2 separate regions of the Homo sapiens genome follow, and region 1 is linked to region 2. The links come from fine-mapping of genetic effects on gene expression. A gene starts in region 2. The other region holds a variant in brackets. All regions are shown on one strand. Distances are between the middles of the regions. Region 1 overlaps SCMH1 (Scm polycomb group protein homolog 1). Region 2 holds the start of SCMH1 (Scm polycomb group protein homolog 1).

What was found. PIP is the estimated chance that this variant, and not a neighbour inherited with it, causes the effect. A credible set is the group of variants that fine-mapping cannot tell apart.
Region 1: its variant is the best candidate, but not a certain one, in a credible set for the expression of SCMH1 in whole blood (INTERVAL, PIP 0.76).

What each region holds. Positions count from the first base shown.
Region 1 is chr1:41,116,185-41,125,391 of GRCh38, forward strand. It overlaps SCMH1 (Scm polycomb group protein homolog 1), which reads right to left. Exons shown (of 16, transcript NM_001394311.1): 7 at 738-826. Among named protein-coding and RNA genes, the nearest start is that of SLFNL1, 99 kb to the left of the region's middle. The variant A/T (reference allele first, on the strand shown) is at 5,556.
Region 2 is chr1:41,238,667-41,247,873 of GRCh38, forward strand. SCMH1 (Scm polycomb group protein homolog 1) reads right to left here and starts at 3,640. Exons shown (of 16, transcript NM_001394311.1): 1 at 3,393-3,640. SCMH1-DT (SCMH1 divergent transcript) reads left to right here and starts at 3,692. Exons shown (of 3, transcript NR_186015.1): 1 at 3,692-4,040. RefSeq lists an enhancer at 2,201-2,380 and silencers at 2,701-2,860, 2,961-3,510, 3,551-3,950.

The sequences.
Region 1 (9,207 bases), 120 kb before region 2:
CCCAAAGAATACAAGAACTACTCCTGAGTTACATAAGTGCTAGGTAATTCAGAAGCAGGATGCTCTTAGTGTTGAGACTTAACTAGCAGCATAGGCAAACCTAATTTAATACCCTTTACAGTAACTTTTACCCCATTAGAAAATTCAACTGATAGACTCACTGCCTCACTTCTTGAGAAGCAATAACAAATACAGGTTTTGGATCCCTGTTCTGCCGCTTACTAGCCACGTGATCTTGAGCAAGCTCCTAATTCAAAAGTATTTGTTTCCTTAACTATTAAATGGAAATAATAATTCTTAGTTCATAAAGTTAGCTGTGGGTATTACATGAGATAGTATATATAAAGTCCCAAACATATCGTAGGCAATAAAAAAAGTCTCCTTCTTTTCTCTGTTTAGAACATGAACTCTACAGAACTCCAAGATCTATAATAAGAATAGCGCCTTTAGATTTGTATTACATTTAACATATTCTACTAATAATACATTTTAACTTCTTAACAAGCCCGACAGGTAAACAGAGATTACTGGAAGCTGGGACCATATAATCTAATCTATGGGACCTTATAGTCTAATATATTCCTCTGGGGATAATTGCTGCTTCATAAGCTACTAAAAAATCCTTCTGAACTAATTTCTGAGAAGGCATCTTCAGGCCATAAGTAAATGTGGACATCAAAGTCTCAATATTTGACCTTAAGCAGCCTGGAGCTGGTGATATCTGAGGGATAGCCTACCTTGTGGAAAATCCTGATGGGAGCCATCTCTGCTCCATTTAGCGTCTTCAAAAGGAACATGGGCCAAGAAGACGCATTCAGCCGAAATCCTGCAGCAAGCATAATGGGCAACAGATTAAAAGTATGTTTCAAAAATGAATGGTGATGTGGGTGGCAAGCCACCCAGGTGCCGAGGCAAGAGACCGAGGGCACGAGCTCTTCCAGTATAATAAAATATATAAAATAAGAATAGTTATACTAGATATAGATCATAGATATGATTATATATGAATATCATTCATCATTAGTTTGTAGCAATTATTCTTTATTCCAATATTATAATAATCCTCGCTCTACAATCATAACCTAGGAAAAACCAGGCCATACAGAGATAGGAGCTGAGGGGACATAGTGAGAAGTGACCAGAAGACAAGAGTGCGAGCCTTCTGTTATGCCCGGACAGGGCCACCAGAGGGCTCCTTGGTCTAGCGGTAACACCAGCGTCTGGGAAGACGCCCGTTGCCAAGCGGACCGTGGTCTAGTGGTAGCGTCAGTGTCAAGGAAAAACACCCATTACTTAGAGACCGGGAAAGGGAGTCACCCTTTCCCCGGGGAAGTTTAGAGAAGACTCTACTCCTCCACCTCTTGCGGAGGGCCTGACGTCAGTCAGGCCCGCCTGCAGTTATCCAAAGGTCTAACTGTCTCCCTGTGATGCTGTGCTTCAGTGGTCATGTTCCTAGTTCGCCTTCATGTTCCATCCTGTACACCTGGCTCTGCCTTTTAGTTAGCAGTAGCAAATTAGTGAAAGTACTAAAAGTCTCTGATTAGTAGAAATAATGGCGTAAGCTGTCTCTCTCTCTCTCCTCTCTCTCTCTCTGCCTCGGCTGCCAGGCAGGGAAGGGCCCCCTGTCCAGTGGACACGTGACCCACGTGACCTTACCTATCATGGGAGACGGCTCACACTCCTTACCCTGCCCCTTTGTCTTGTATCCAATAAATATCAGCGCAGCCTGGCATTCAGGGCCACTACTGGTCTCTGTGTCTTGGTGGCAGTGGTCCCCCTGGGCCCAGCTGTCTTTTATCTCTTCGTCTTGTGTCTTTATTTCTACACTCTCTTGTCTCCGCACACAGGGAGAAAACCCACCAACCCTGTGGGGCTGGACTCTACATTATGATATCAAGTTCAGCCTTTAGAATCCAGCTACTCCTATGCTGTGATAGTTACAGAATCACAGACTGTTAAGAAAGGACTTAAGGGTTAAAAAGGAGAAACACCTCATTAGACAGATGAAGAAAATGAGGCACATAAGAGAGAATGTAACTTGTCCAAGGTAATGCTGTAAAGTAAATAGTGGGACAGAGTCTCCAAACCAAGTTTCCTAAGACAAGTACTACAGAACACATAACGTAATGCCTAGAAAACTTTCTAGGCATTTGAAAAATCCAAAAAAGATGTGATAGGATTAACGAATACTTAGAGATGATCTGGACAGTAGAGTATGAAAGGGGATCTAATAATCTCTTAAGAAGAAACCAAACATGTCAACCGATAAACCCAATATATAAGTAAATCATTTTGGTTCCTCTCAATGTAAACTAACTCACTACTTCTCTTATCACTTTCTGTCTTGCACACATACACACACCAAGTACAAAATACTTTCTGAAGTTCATTGTTTACTTAAACAACTAAGGACCAAGGAATGACATTGGAAAGGATTGTCCTATCCAAAAATCTTCATTTTGCAAAAGAGTAAAAAGAAGCCTAGAGAGGTTAACTGTCCATTATCACCTATCAATGAATTGTAAAAATAAGATCATTATTACAGTTAGGTCTTCCAATTAGAGCCCCAAGTGCTTCTTTCAATTTGCTTCAACTCTGCATCCTGAGATAACAAAACCTAATGTTTTTTGAGCATTTCCCAAACTACCTCAGCCTTCCCACTCCAAACAAAAGAACAGATAAGCTGCACCCAAGCTGCAAAGCTGGAAATAACAGCAGCAGCAGTATCTGATGTTATTGAGCACTTTACTGTTCACTATGCCAATCACTTTCTATTGACTATCTAATCCTCAAGACAGCCCTAGGAGGTAGATATTATCTTCATTTTATAGATGAGGAAACAGGTACAATTTATTTGAAGTTAAATAAATTGCTTAAGATTTCAAAGTGAGCAAACGAAAAGACAGGATTAAAATTCAGGCAATCTGACTCCTGAGCCCACACTTTAAAACTGGCAATGTATGGGTAAAATGAAAAGGGAAGATTCAGCTTTTGGAAAAAAGTATCAATTAACAACTGTAATTAAAGTTAGGAGGAGGAGGTGACAAGGAAATGCAAATAAAAAAAGAGTTACCACTCCATACTATTTAAACTTTTAGTCCCAAAGCTGGCTAGGCTAAGCCAGCCTTCCCAAGGTAAAGAGATTTCTTGGGACAGCCCATCCATATCAACAGCAATGTGGACTTTCCTATCACTCAATCTAAAACTGCCATCACTTCCTTTTTGCTTGCCCAGCTTTTTTTTCCCTTTAGGGCAAAAAAAAAACAAAAAAAAAAAAACCCCACCGTAACTCCACATGATTTGGTGGGCACGTCAACCACATATGTGGTCCTTACCTACCTGGCCTTGGGGTAAAACACAATGCTGTTTAAGAGCATCAAATTCCCCTAGACCAAGAGTGTATATGTGTCTATGTCCCATGTTAGGCCAGTTGTTTTTTGACATGAGATTGACGTTGGAGAAGAACATCTTTCTTTGTCTGAGAACATGCCCATAAGGATGTTTGCAGTTTGGGCACTGCTACATGGAGAACAGACCTGAGAATAAAGCCAAAGTACAGCATGGGATGGAGACACATAATAGTGTTTAAAACCCAGTACTCAGACACTCAACACCAGATAAATCCTTGGACTTCTTGGTTATATGAGTTAATAATTCCTGCCTCCTCCTTTTTTCCCTCTCTAATCTGGTTTGAGCTGGGTTTTTAACTGCTACTCTTCTTTTGACAATGGTTTAAAAAAATTAAATCCCTCCAGAAATTCAAGCGTGGTGTTTATGTGGGAAAACAACTCTCCTTAGGTCAGGGAAGGGCTGAAGCAAGCCAAACCCAGAGCAGCTTTGCCATGAGTGGTTTGGTACACCTATGGATAAGGTAAAGCAAGGCACTACTGTTTTAGAGAAGTGGTCTATACACCTTGGTATAGGGAGGCCTGCACAATTAGAAAATTCAGGTTTAATGCCTATAGTTATCAATGACTAGAGTGCCTAGCCATGTAATTCCCAATTCCATTTTTGAGGTAGGGGTTACTGGGGGGTTTCTATCTCATCTGAAGCTTAAGGAGCTAAAAAATCCTCTCAGCTTTGGAAATCATTACAATATTATCATAATAGTTAATATATATTGAATGCTTACCATGTATTAAACATTTTATATGCCATTTCTTACTCAATATTTGAAATAACATGGGCAGGCACTATTATTATCCCTACTCTACAGATGATAAAAAATGAAAACTCAGAGAAGCAGCTTGTCTAGGGTCATGCTAGTAAATGCCGGAGACAGATTTCAATATATGGTGGTTGGATACCAAACTTTGTGGTTCTTTACTATGTTTCACTACCAGCAGGATTCTTCAAGAGTACAGGGGCAAAGCAGAAATATTTTGAACCCAAGAAATTGCTAAGGTATCTTATTCCTCAATCCGCTAGGTGATGTGGGACTCTATCCCTTCAAATTCAAGTATATCCATAATTTACCTCAATATTCTTGGGCAATCATAGATAGTAGATAATTTTAACATTGAAAGGGACCTCAGAGGCCATGAAGTACAAAGATCTTACATTGCAGATGATGAAACTGAAGTCCAGAGAGGCTAAGAAACTTGTTCATGGTCACACAAGCCAATCTTACACTGTCAGGCTGGAACCCCAGGACTTCTTATTTGGTTCTCTTTTATTACACTATGTTTATTACACTATCTCTTTTATTACACTATGTTGCCTCCAAAAGTTAACATTTATTGTACACATATCATGAGCCAGCTCCTTGTGCTAAGCATTTGCAGTGGATCACTACTACTATTCTGAATCAGATACTAGAGGAGTAGCAGTTTCTGGTGCCAGACTGCCTGAATTTAAATCCAGCTTTGCCACTTACCAGGTACATAACTTTTGGAAAATTACAAAACCTCTCTCTAGCTTCAGTTTCCTCAACAACAGCATGGGATAAGAATCAATGGGTTGTTCTAAAGATTAAATAGGCTAATACATGCAAAGGACTTAAAACACTGCCTGGCATACAGGCAGGAGTTAGATAAACATTGGCTATTATTTTTGTAACTATAGATGAAAAAACTGAGGCTTAGAGAAATTAAGTAAAATATCCAAAGTTAGTAAGTTAGTAAATAGCAGAGCCAGGATTTGAACCCAACTACTCCGTCTCCAGAGCTTTCATAACTAATCATCACATTAATATCGTCAAATATTTTATCACTCAGTCCTACCACACTGTCTCTAGGTAAGAAGGGTTGGAGTCATAAACTTGTGAAAGAGAGAAAAGAAGGAAGATGAAAACAGTAATTTGAGGCTCTATTCAAATTAGGCAACGACCTAGGCTGTCTATAAGGAAAAGGACAGGTGGGTAAGAGGAAATCCTAATCTCTAAATGTAGAGCACCTCAGTGCTCAGTCATTGCTTCTGTCTTCTTCTTGGTCCCCACTTTCTTCCTGTTAAATGATGACTGTCAATTTATATATCTAGCCAAAACCTCTGCTCAGGGTTTCATGTTCATATATCCAACTACCTCAGTCTATAACTCTACTTGGATGTCTAAGAAA[A/T]CGTAAAATGAATAAGTTTAAGACAGTACTCTTGATTCTACTATTCCCTCCAAACTTGTTCTTTCCTCCAGTTATCCCATCTCAGTTTAATAGGTGGCACCCCTTATTAAACCCAGGTGCTCAGACCTAAAAGACTAGAAGTCATCCTTGATTCTTCCCTTTCTATCACCCACCAAACCCAATTAATCAGCAAGTCTTGATGGCTTTCCCACTTAATATATGCTAGATCGACCCACATTTCACCATCTCTACTGCTATATTACCCTAATTTAAGCCAGAGTCAAACTTTGCCTAGACAACTCCAACAGCCTTCTAACTGGACCTCAGCCCTCTACTTTTGCAGCCAGAATAATATGGTTATGTTTTTAAAAATATAAATCAGGTCACATTACCTTATGCTCAAATTTCACAACACAAAACAGATCTAAACTCTTTATTATTCATGTTTACAAGGCTTACATGATCTGGACCTTGCTTACTCCTCATTACTCATCTCTTATCACTCCCTTGTACCCCTATTCATTGGTCTTTCTGTTCTCAAATATACCAAGCTGTTTCCCTCTGCCTCAAACACCTTTTAATCAACTCTTTACAGTTAGTTATTTGCTGAGACATCACTTCCTCAGAAAGGTGTTCCTTGACTACTTTACCCAAAATAGACTCCTAAATCTATCCTGCTTCCTTCTTATTTATTCCTAGCCCCTATCACCATCTGAATTTTCTTTTTAAAAAGTTTAATGTGTATGTCTTCTCCAACTAGAATACAAAATCCTTGATAGTTTTATTGAATTAAGGAAAAAACCCTCCATTTATTAAATGGGTGCCAAGAATTGATGAACGCTTTATTATGTTATTCCACTTAATCCACAAAAACAACATGGGGAAGAATTTATTAATCATCTTGCAGGTAAGGGCACTGAAACTCAACGTTACAAGTCAAGGTAAAGCAACTTACCAGTAGTCACACAACTAAGGTAGTGAGTGGCTAAGTTAATATTACAAAGTCAGATCTCTTTTAATTCCAAACACAGGCTGCAAGTGCTCTGTGTTTACCAAGGATTCATTTTTTAAAACTTCATAAAGAACCACTTCTAAAGTGCTTCTAGGTGCTCCCAAGACTATGGGACCACTGGATAAGCTAGGGTCCATCTCTTTAAACTGGCCAGCTGATGAAACTGGATTTAAGAGTGGAGCTGCAGGCCGGGCACAGTGGCTTTCACCTGTAATCGCAGCATTTTGGGAGACTGACGCAGGAGGATCACTTCAGCCCAAAATTTAAAGACCAGCCTGGGCAACACAGTGAGACCCTGTTTCTACAAAAAATACAAAAAATTAGCTGGGTGTGGTGGTGTGTGCTTGTAGTCCCAGCTACGTGGAAGGCTCATGCAGGATGACTGCTGTAGCCTGGGGATGTCGAGGCTGCAGTGAGCTATGATTGTGACGCTGCATTCCAGCCTGAGTGACACAGCGAGACTCTGCCTCAATACATACATACATACATGTGGAGCAGCAGGACTATAATCTAATCATAGTCCATGCCCTCTGGTGGCAGGTAACAGAAGAGCATTCACACCAGGAATTGATCAGTGACAGAAACATACAAAGGATTCCTTTGAAGTTACTGTATATACTAAAGCATGTGACCAAATTTGCTGGGTAAGCAGTTTACACTGAGATCGTGACTCACTTGACTAGGGGCCTCATTAAAGGCTAGCTTCTACTCCAGCTCAGTGACTCTCAAACTTGGACTGGAATCCCCTAGGGAACATTAAAGAATACATCAGATCCACTCCCAGAAATCCCTATTTAACTGATCTGAAGTTAAGGCCTAGACCCTGAAAATTTTAAGAGCTCCCTAGGTGATTTTAACAGGTAGCCAAGTTTGAGAACTATGCTCTAGACAGCCCTCTTTAGAAGAAACAATCACAGTATTAAGTAGAAGAATCAGTCAGTAATAACAGGGAGCTGTGAGGAGAAGAGTGGCAGCTTTGAGATAACTGAGGAGAATCATTCTACTCTACTACATGTTTTATCCTTGGAGGACTCCACTGCAAAAGAGTAATATCCCTTATGAGAACAGAACACACATACGTATACATATACACCATGCAAGATTTTAATGGAAAAGGATGCTCTTCCAGAGCAATGTTTTCCAAATATAGACCAGTTGTGTCAGTATCTCAGGAGAGCCATTTTGCCATGCAGAATCCCAAGCCCCATTACCTAGAGCTTCTGATTCAGCAACTCTAGAAAGAAGTCCAGAGAAGGCCTGGGGAACATGGACACACAAACATATGTACAATTATATATAAATAATTTTATTTTTTTAATTTTATTTTGAAAAGTTATAAACCTAGAGAAAATAGCAAAAACTATATAATGAACAATTATGTACCCTTCAACTAGATTCAACAACTATTACCATTTTCCCACATCTGCTTTTCATCTACATATATTAATGCTTCCACCCCTGAACTATATGAAAGTTGGAGATGTTACGACACTTCACCCCTAAATATATCAGTATATTTGAAAAAAGACATTCCCCTACAAAATTGCAGTATTATCACACTCAGGAAATTTAATTAAAAATATTCTCATTTGTCCCTAAAATGTTCTTTAAAACTGTTGATTTTTAAATACAGGATCCAATCAAGAATCACATACTGCAATTGGTTGTCATGTTTCTTCAGTCTCCTTTAATGTAGAATTCATGTATAATAGTCCTGTTGCCTTTTGTTTGCTTTGTATGACACTGACATTTTTGAAGAGTCTGGATTGTTTTACAGAATGTCCCACAGTTTGGACTTCTTCTGATCGTTTCCTCATAATTACATTCATGCTGAAGAGCTTATTTATTTATTTATTTATTTATTTATTTATTTTGAGACAGGGTCTTTCTCTGTTGCCCAGGCTGGTGTGCAGTGGTGCAATCATGGCTCACAGCAGCCTTCAACTCCTGGGCTCAGGTGATCCCCCTGAGCAACTAGGACTAAGGGTGTGCACCACCACACCTGGCCAATTTTTCTATTTTTTGTAGTGATGGGGGACTTGCTATATTGCCCAGGCTGGTCTTGAATTTCTGGCCTCAAGTAATCATTCCGCCTCAGCCTCCCAAAGTGCTGGCTCTGATTACAGGCATAAACTGCTAGGCCTGGCCTGCTAAAGAGATTTGATAAAAAATATTATACAGGTGATGTGGAGTATTTCTCATTGCAATACTGCAGGAGGCACATAATGTCAGTTTGTCTAATTACTGAAGATACAAAATTTGATCACATGTTAAGAGGTGATTGACAGTGTTCTTCACTGTAATTTCCCTTTGTAATTTACAGGCAATCAGTGGAGAGAAACTTTGAGACTGTGAACATCCTATTCCTCAGTATGTTTTTTTACCTAATAGTTTAAGCATTTATTGGTTACTCTTGCCTGACTCAATTATTAAAATAGTTGCAAAAAAGTAATTTTCTCTCATTCCTTCTATATATTTTTTTTAGACAGGGTTTTGCTTTGTCCCCCAGGCTGAAATTCAGTGGCGAGATCTCCGCTCACTGCAGCCTAGACTTCCCGGGCTCAGCTGATTCTTCCTTTTCAGCCTCCTGAGTAGCCGGCACTACAGGTGTGTGTCATCATGCCCAGATAATTTTTGTAT
Region 2 (9,207 bases):
TGTCATACTCAGCTTTACTGACCTTCGCCTCTGCTGTATTTTAGCTACCCATACACAGAGACCTCGCTGTCACCTAGAACAGTCCCAATATCAGACAACTTAACTCCGATATTCCACTTTCTGACCACACCTCTTTTTTTTCTCAGCTTACTTCCACTATATTTGCTCACTGATCTAACTCAAGAAATTGAAAATCTTCAAGTCCAGAATTGAACTCATCATCGTTTCCTGTCTCAGTTAAAATTACCAACATATCCTCCTTAGTCATCCAAGGCAAAAACCTGAGCATCACACGGGACTCCTCACCCTCTCACCTGCACATACAATCAATCATTAAAGCCTTATACATTTTCTCAGATTCATTTCTTTCTCTTCATCCCTATGACCACATTTTAAAAATGTTACTTCAACCATGTCTGATAGACACCTTCCAGTGATTAAATAAAAATAAAAAAAAAACACCTACTGAATTGATTTTAGGATACTTATGCATACAAGGTCCACCACGACATGGCCTCTGACTGTATTTCCAGCCTTACAACTCATCACTTATTGTTATATTCCTAGCAGTCCCAAACTGTTTGTGGTTCTCTACGCAAGCCATTCCTTTTCTCACATTGATGCCTTTGCTCAAGCTGTTTTCTCTGTTTGAAGGACGCTTTCTGCTCATGTTTGCCTCACTTACTCCTACCTACCATTTAAGATTTGGGTCAGATATCATCTCTTCCCAAAGCCTTCCTTTAACTCCTAGGCTAGTCTAAGTGCCCTCACCTTTGGGCAACCTTTACTCTCACCTTGTATATCTCAGCTATGCGTAGTTCTCATCTTTTATTCTGAGATAATCTATTTAAGCATCTAATTTACCAGCTCCACAAGATTGGAAATCTTTGTAAACCCAGCTGAGCACAGTACATAGCATAGTGCTTGACCCATAGTAGGTACATAAGTGTACAGTGAAGGTTAGAACATACCAATTTTCTTTTCTTTTTTAAAAGATGGGGTCTCATTCTGTCACTTGCTATGGCGTGATCATGGCTCACTGAAGCCTCAAACTCCTTGACTCAAACGGTCCTCCTGCCTCAGCCTCCTGAGTAGCTGAGACTACAGACATACACCATCATGCCCAGCTATATTTTTATTTTTATTTTTTGTAGAGACAGGGTCTTGCTACGTAGCCCAGGCTGGTCCAGAACTCCTGGCCTCAAAGAGTTGCCTGCCTCAGCTTCCCAAAGTGCTGGGATTATAGGCATGAGCCCCTGCATCCAGCCCTAAGTTTAAATTTTCAGTGGGATATTCACATCAATTCTTTCTCATAGTTAAGTATCCTCTACCTTTCACTCCAAGTCCTTTGCAAGGAAGGAATCAGGGCCTTTCCTCTGGATCTGTATAGTTCCATTGAGAATGGTGCTATGCAAATGTTTACCCAACTTACATAAAAGGGAACAACATTTGCACAAACATACCTAAAATCAAAACTTGACATATGTGCTACAAAGTTCAAAACTATTGACCAATTTAAAAAATGAAGGCTTAAGAACAAAAATAAAGAACCAATTCTGACTGCTGGTATGTGCTTGTCTAAGTTGTAAAAACACTGAAACTTTGCTTAGTACTTAAACAGGATCCCAGATGTAAGAGCCTGGCCTTTTATCTACAAGGCCATCTCATCTCTACTGGGCTTAAAACATTACTAACCTGCAGAGTTGCTTAGGCAAGAGTTTAGGAGGTTGGTAAGTAAGCAACAAAAAGTGTTCTCTTTCATAGTAATTTTGGGCCTCCTGCTGGCAGTTAGAACTAGAGCAAAGAGTTCAATGTAATAAAGCATTTCCCTCTGCAACCAAATATTAAAATTGCAGTTTGGCACTAAACTAGGTCTCAATCCTTTTCAGAGTTTAAAAAAAAAAAAAGAGCTATTCTATTTGCCTGGCACATTACACTTCAACAAAACATTTTGATGTACATTAGTTAGCAACATTTGATAAAGTGTTTATAGACATTTTTTAAAAGGAAGGAAACCCCCAAATTTCCACAAAATAAGATGTCTTTTAGTTTGTTTGAACAAACACTACTAAATGTTTTCTTTTTTTTTTTTTTTTAAGTTCAAAATACAGTACAGAAATGAGGAAGGGAATCTAGAGTACTTTTGATTTAAGCAGGTCAATCCTTGGGGCTGTTTCTTAGAGAAACTTACTACGTTTTGTCTCCAGGATCACTTTTAAGAAACTCTCCTTTAAGGGGATGGGGGAAACTAAAGCTCATCCAGAGGACAGTTTAGAGAACCACAGCAGATGAGAGACAACTGAAGAAAGTGGAAGTGAAGACTCAGGGGACATGATTACTATCTTCAGATATCTTAACAGCTTCCCATAAGGGAAAAGAACTAGGAAGGATGGGAGCCAGCTGTTTCTTTCAACTTATAACCAAATGTGTCCAGGAACAGAATGGGTTTCCTTTAAAGAGATTCGCTTCGGATCACTGGAAGAGGTTCCAAACGGGCTCGTCAAATTATCGGGGGGATTTGGGGATTTTCAAAGTCACTTTGGCATGGGATGGGAGAAAGCGCCCCTAGATGACTTTTAAATTCTCTTCCAGTCAGGAGATATTCCGGGGTTCACCCATCGGCTGGATACCACTTTCGATGCTCTCGGGCTGGCACACAACTGTGCCCACGTGTCTGGCCCCCAGGGCCGCTGTGGCTCACTTCGGTGCGGGGCCGCTCTCCCTGCCCGTTTCCGGCGGGGCACTGGGGCAGGCGGCACACGTGAGTCGGCCAGCCGGGGCCCAGCCCCCAGGACGCTGCTGACAGCTCCGGGCCCTAGGCGCCCCAGCTCTCGGTGGGGGCCACGCCGCCCCGTCGACCTCTGTCTCTGCCTTCCCCGAACCGGGACCCGGCCAGCCAGAATCACAGGCATTCCCACCTCTGGCGCCGGAGGGGACCGACTGACCCGCGCAGACGGGGTCGCGCCGCCGCCCGGCCCTCGGCCCCCAGCCAGCCTGCCCCGGCCCACCCGGCCCCGCCGGCCAGACACGGCGACCTATACGGACCGCCCCCACGCCGACCCTCCAAAGGGCCCCCGGCCTTGGGTTTCCCGTGCCGGGGCCCCCGGGCAGTCCTGGCGGCGTCAGGGCCGCGACCGGACCGTGGGCCCCGCCCGCCCGACCGCAGATGCAGAGCCGGCCTCCGGGCTCGGGGCCGGGCTGACACGGCCGAGAAAGGGCCCAGCCCCGCGCGGACCACAGACTGGCAGGCCGGCCAGACAGACGGACAGGCTGACCCCGGCCCGGGGGAGCAGGCGCAGCGGCTGCGCAGGTCCCGCCACCGCCTTCTGGCCCCAGGCGGCCCCTCAGGGCACGAGCTCTTAGGCGGGCGGAGGCGGCCGCGAGGCGCTTACCTGAGGGCGCGGCGGGGGCGCGGGGCGGCTCACTCTCTTCCCGCCGCCATGTTTCCGCTGCGCAGGGAGGGAGCGGAGACGCGGGAAGGGGGCGGGCGGGCGGCTCGGGAGAGCGGCGGGCGGGCGGCGGGGGGCTCCACCGAGCTGGCGGTGGCGGCTGAGGCGGGGGGCGGGGCGGGGGCTCCCCCGGCCCCTCCCCCGCGCCTCCCGCTGCGAGGTGGCGCGCGCCTCGGCCGTTGGGCTCGCGCGGGGGGCGGGGCGGCGCGCTGGAGGAGGGAGGGCGCGCGGGAACCCGGCCCGGCCGTACCCCGCCGGCCTGCCGACCCGGGTCCGGGGGCCCAGTTGGCGCCCGGACCAGCTCTCCGGTCTGCGTCCTGTAGATGGGAAAACTGAGGCCTGAGAGGGCGCGAGGGCGGGGACGAGGCCGAGGACTCGGGTTCGAATCTCGAGGACGCCAGTAGCCCGCTCTGAGGCCGCGTGGGGCTGGTGGAGGAGCCACCGGTCGGGCCCCCAAGACCGGCTGACGTGGGCCTCGCCTCGGGCGACTCCCGCCGGGCTAGTGGCTGGCCGTGTGGTGACCTTGGGCGAGTTACTTCGCACAGCCACCCAGGGGCCTCTTCTCCAACACGATAGCACTGCACCCGGAGGGTAGGTGAGAGATGAGTTGGTGCTTGGATGCCCTAGGGAGTGTCAGCGTCCTCGGTCCTCCCTGTGGTGATCCCTTCAACGAGTACGCACTGAGCCCGTGATGGGCCAGGTACAATGCACAGGCTCATTCTTCCAGGCCCACCAGCCATGTTGGCTACACAATTCTATTTTTGTTTTGTTAGAGATGGAGCCTCACTTTGTCCCCAAGGTCGGAGTGCAGTGGCGCCATCATAGCTCACTGTAACCTCAAATTACTGGGCTCAAGTGATCCTCCTGCGTCAGCCTCCCAAAGCGCTGGGACTACAGGCGTGAGCCACTGCGCCTGGCACACAATTGGTTTAACCACCACATCATTTTAGCAGCTTAGGAAACTGACGTCTTGACTTCTGTTTTGGCTGCTTGAAAATACAGTGCAATATAAATCCCGAGACCTCTGCTGAGCTGGATGTGGAGTGGGTGTGGGCATCATTTAGAACATGGCAATCCTCAGGTCACACAGGAATGTCTTGTTAATGATCCTTCTGTGAACAATGTTCCTTGGAGGGAAGTCCACTTAAGCAAGGCTGGAGCAGCAGATGGGGCAGCTGAGCCTGGATTACTTGCCTTGCCTCTAGAATAGGTCTTAGAGCTTTGGACTGAAGGGGGGCCGCCTCCTTGTATCCTGGTATTGGTGTCAGTATCCGTCTGCCCATTCTTGAGAAATGGAAATGGTCAGAATCTATCCAGGTTCTGATCTGCATCCCTGTTGTCTAATTTAAACTTTCATTCCATGGCGTTTTGGGGAGTACCTGTCTCATGAAGAGCCCTGAGGTTACAAGGATAATTAGAGCCTAAATCTAAGGAGCCCATATTTGGGGAAACTATTATGTCAATAGCTAATGAGAGCACAGTGTTGTAAGTGCTCATATTAGTTTTCTATTCCTGCATAACAAATTGGCACAAATTTTGCAGCTTAAAGCAACACCCATTGATTTACTCACAGTTGTGTAGGTCGGAAAACTGGCATGGTGTGGCTGGGTTTTCTGCTCGTGGTGTCATAGGCTGAAATCAAGATGTCTAGCACCTCCACGAGGGAAAGGTCTGCCCCAGGCTCCTTCGGGCTGTTGGCAGAATTCATGTCCCTGTAGGACTAGGATCCCACAGCTACACTGTTTTGCCAGCTCTCTGTTGGGGACCACTCTCAGGTCCTTGCCACGTGATCCCTTTTATCTCATCAACAGAGAACCTTTCTCATGTCACTCCCTCTCATTCTTTAAATATCTCTGATTTCCCTTCTTCAACCAGTCAGAGAACACTATGAGCTTTTAAAAGACTTGTAATTAGGTCAGACCCACCTAGATAATCTTCCTACTTTAAGATCACCTGTGCCACATCACATACCCTAATCACAGGAGTAAAATTCATCATAGCCACTGTCCCAGGGACTATGCAGAAGGTGTACATGAAGGTTAATCTAGGAAGCTACCTTAGAATTCTGCCTACTACGTCCAGTGAGAAATGTTCTCTTGAACATTTTCTCTATGAATTCCCCTAGCAGTTTGTTCTGTAACTCTGTCCATGGCACCATATATGTTGCCATTATTGGAGTATATTTCTAAACCTCTTTTCTAGGCTGAAAGCGTCTTGAGATCAGGAACCTTATTCACACCTGTAGCCTTAGATAAGGCTTGGCATGAGGGAGATATTCCCACATCTGCTAAAAATAAATAAATATTATGCATATTGTCCTTTGGATTCCTGCTTTTTTTTTTTTTTGAGATGGAGTCTCGCTCTGTCATCCAGTTTGGAGTGCAGTGGCATGATCTCGGCTCACTGCAAGCTCCATCTTCCGGGTTCACGCCATTCTCCTGCCTCAGCCTCCTGAGTAGGTGGGACTACAGGCGCCTGCCACCACGCCCAGCTAATTTTTTGTATTTTTAGTAGAGACAGCGTTTCACCATGTTAGCCAGGATGGTCTCAATCTCCTGACCTTGTGATCCGCCCTCCTTGGCCTCCCAAAGTGCTGGGATTACAGGCGTGAGCCACCACACCCAGCCTCCTGCTTCTTTTTTAGATCCAGCTCAGAACTTCTCTGACACTTCTCAGGAAGAACTCATTTCTCCCTCCTCTCCACTGTCACTTGGTAAAAATCTCTGTGTGAAATGTTTCCCATTGTAGTATTTTAAGTCAGACTGTAGTTTCCTTGAATATAGTACTTTGCTTTTATTCCACTTAATATTCCAGGGCACAGCATAATGTATTAACAGTTCTGTGCTGTTCAATTAAACAACTAATTACACATGGGTGTTATTAGTTGCTTAATGTTTGGATTTTAATAAGGGGGGTTAAAAACCAAGAGGCAACTGGAGAGTGGAATTGGGCTATGACAGACCCTGTGACCTTTGGGTTACAGGTGTGGGGAAGCCAAGAAATACAGAGGCAATGGAGAGGGAAGAAATAGGCAAGTTAATCAGGATGTAATTTTTTTTTAAAGGAGGTATGCTAGGAAACCCCAGGTCTGCTCTTTTCTACATTACATTACAGCAAAAAGGAGTGATTATTCTGGCACTGACAGAACTGACAAAAACAGTAGTTTTTGTTTTGTTTTTTGTTTTTGTTTTTTTTCATGTTGTTGATGACCCAGTAGAAGAGTTGGTAAAGGAAATGGGAAAGATGGTTTCTGATGCTTAAAGAAAGTATGTGTGTTGCGGGGTGTGGGGGGGATGCATTGAAATACATAAGAGCCTTCACCACATTAAGTCCTACACATCAATTAAGACTACCTTCCCCAGGAACTTCCTCTGATACCTTCTCTTCCATCCTCACCCCAGGATAAATTAAATGCCCCTCCTTTCGCTCTCCTTGTAGCCTGGCACCTTCATTCATCATTGCATTTACTAGGATCTGTGCATATCATTTTCATTTATGCTTATCTTTCACCTGACTGTAAGCTCCACAGATTGGAACTCTGTCTTTGTTCTTCATTACATCCACAGCACCTCGCACCATACCTGGAACACATTTGGTGATCAGTCTATATTTATAGAATGAATGTGCACAGTAGGACCCTTTCAGACCCAAGCCACAGACCAAAGAGGCAACCTCCTTATTATCTGCCTTGTGACCACAGGGCCCCACTGGCTGTTCAGATTCAGACATGTGCTGAGCCCAAACCTTGTTGTTTATCTAAGACGCTTCTGCTCTTTCTCCTCTTGTAAAATACAAAGTAAAAATAGTTCCAGGAAGCTGTGTGGTTAAGACATTCCAGTCTCTGAGCTCCTAGATAAAGGCTGTTATTGTTAGGAAGGTGGTCATTAATCCAACCTGCCTTTTCTGTATGCTTTGGTTTCACACCCTTCTAAAGGTACTGATTCTTTGTCCTCAGTTTCCCTTAAGCCTGTCACTAGCCGGTAACTGGAAAAAATAATAACTTTACAGCAGTTGATGTACGAATGATCTAAAGGTATCAGTTGATCACAAGTTTGCTTTATGCTCTGGAATTGTGACTTTAACTTATTCTCAAAGTGCCTTACCAGATGGCTTATATCCTCATCTATAAAATGGAAGAAATGACACCTACCTCACCAGATTATTGAAGACTGAAAGAAAATAAAGTAGAAAGACCTCCTGGCACACAGTAATGGCCAAGAAAACGTCATAGATTGGAATCACAGTTTGGAATCCCCTCACTTTGTTCTGCTATGGCCAGACTTTGGGCTATTGAGTTTGTCCTAGGCATTATATTTTAAAAGAGTGATGTTGACAAATTATGACCCAGAAGCAAATGACCAGATAAGGAATCTGGAAATCAGACTTTATAAGGAGCAGCTGAAAGGAGTTGGGAACATTTAGCCTGCAGAAGAAATAACTACTAATGGGAGTAGAGTGGGGTAGGGCAAGGCCTTAGAAGGGTCTTCAGATAATTGAAGGGCTAACATGTGGAAAAGGATTAGGCCTCAATTCTATTCCACACATATCTATGGAACTCCTATTATGTGCCAGGAACTGGGAATGCAAATAAATGTAAAGTACAATCCGTGTCTTTAAGGATCTCAGTCTACAAGGGACCATGACAATGCAAAAAAGGCTATTACAGAGGACTTTGCAATGTCCTCTGTAATATGGAGAAGGCAGAGGAGGGTTCATTGAGCCCAGAGATACTGGGGAAGACTTCACCAAGAAGGTGACATTTGAGTGGACCTTAAAGGAAAACTAGGACTTTTTTAGGCAGAGAAGGAGGGGAAGGACACATAGGCAGCAAGTACAGCATGAACAAAGACAAAAAGGCATCCTCATGGAAAACCTAGGATGCATCGGAAAAGAAGAGGGAAGTGAGCCTGCAATATTTGACTGGAGCCAGATTGTCAAGGGCCTTGATTATTAGCTAAAGAGCTTGGACTATTTACCTTGAGTGGGTATTGAACTATTTACCTTGAGTGGGTATTGAAGAGCCATCAAAGGCCTTTAAGCAGATTTTTATTTTAAAAGGAAATCTCTAGCACAGCTTGCTGAAAGAGCTACACTGAAGAGAGATAGGAGGCAGGGAAGACAAGGCCTCTCAGCATACCAAAGAGAGTCCATGGACTTGACTCTTCCACTGACCATGGGTAAATTTGGGCACATTATTTAAACTTTCTGAACTATTTTTTTTTTTTTAGTTTGTAAATTGAACATCTACTTTATAGGGATGTTTCAGGAATCAAGTGAGGTAACATATCCAAGACTCTCACATGTGTCTGGTACACAAACGGTGCTCAGTAAGTGAACACCATTCCCTTCCTTCCCTTTCTCTTAATGGACAGAGTAGACAGAGAAACAGAGTTCTACTTGATGATGCTAGCATTCATGGGCAAACAATGGGATAATACTCTTGGGGAAATGAATACATCACTGGACACATTCAAGAAGGGTATTTCTTTGGTAGAAGATGAATTGAACCAGATAAGCCTCTAAAATCTCATTCTTACTCTAAGAGTCTATGATTCTGTCACCTTTAGGTCATAGTATTATGGAGATGGTCAAGAACCTGAGGTTTGATATATATTTGATATATAGTATGATATATACTTAATATATTATATATCAAATATCTTATATATATATATTATGGAGATGGTCAAGAATCTGAGGTTTGACTTTGTTGAAAGCACCAATTGGACCCAAAAGAAATGAATCTTCCTCAAAATGA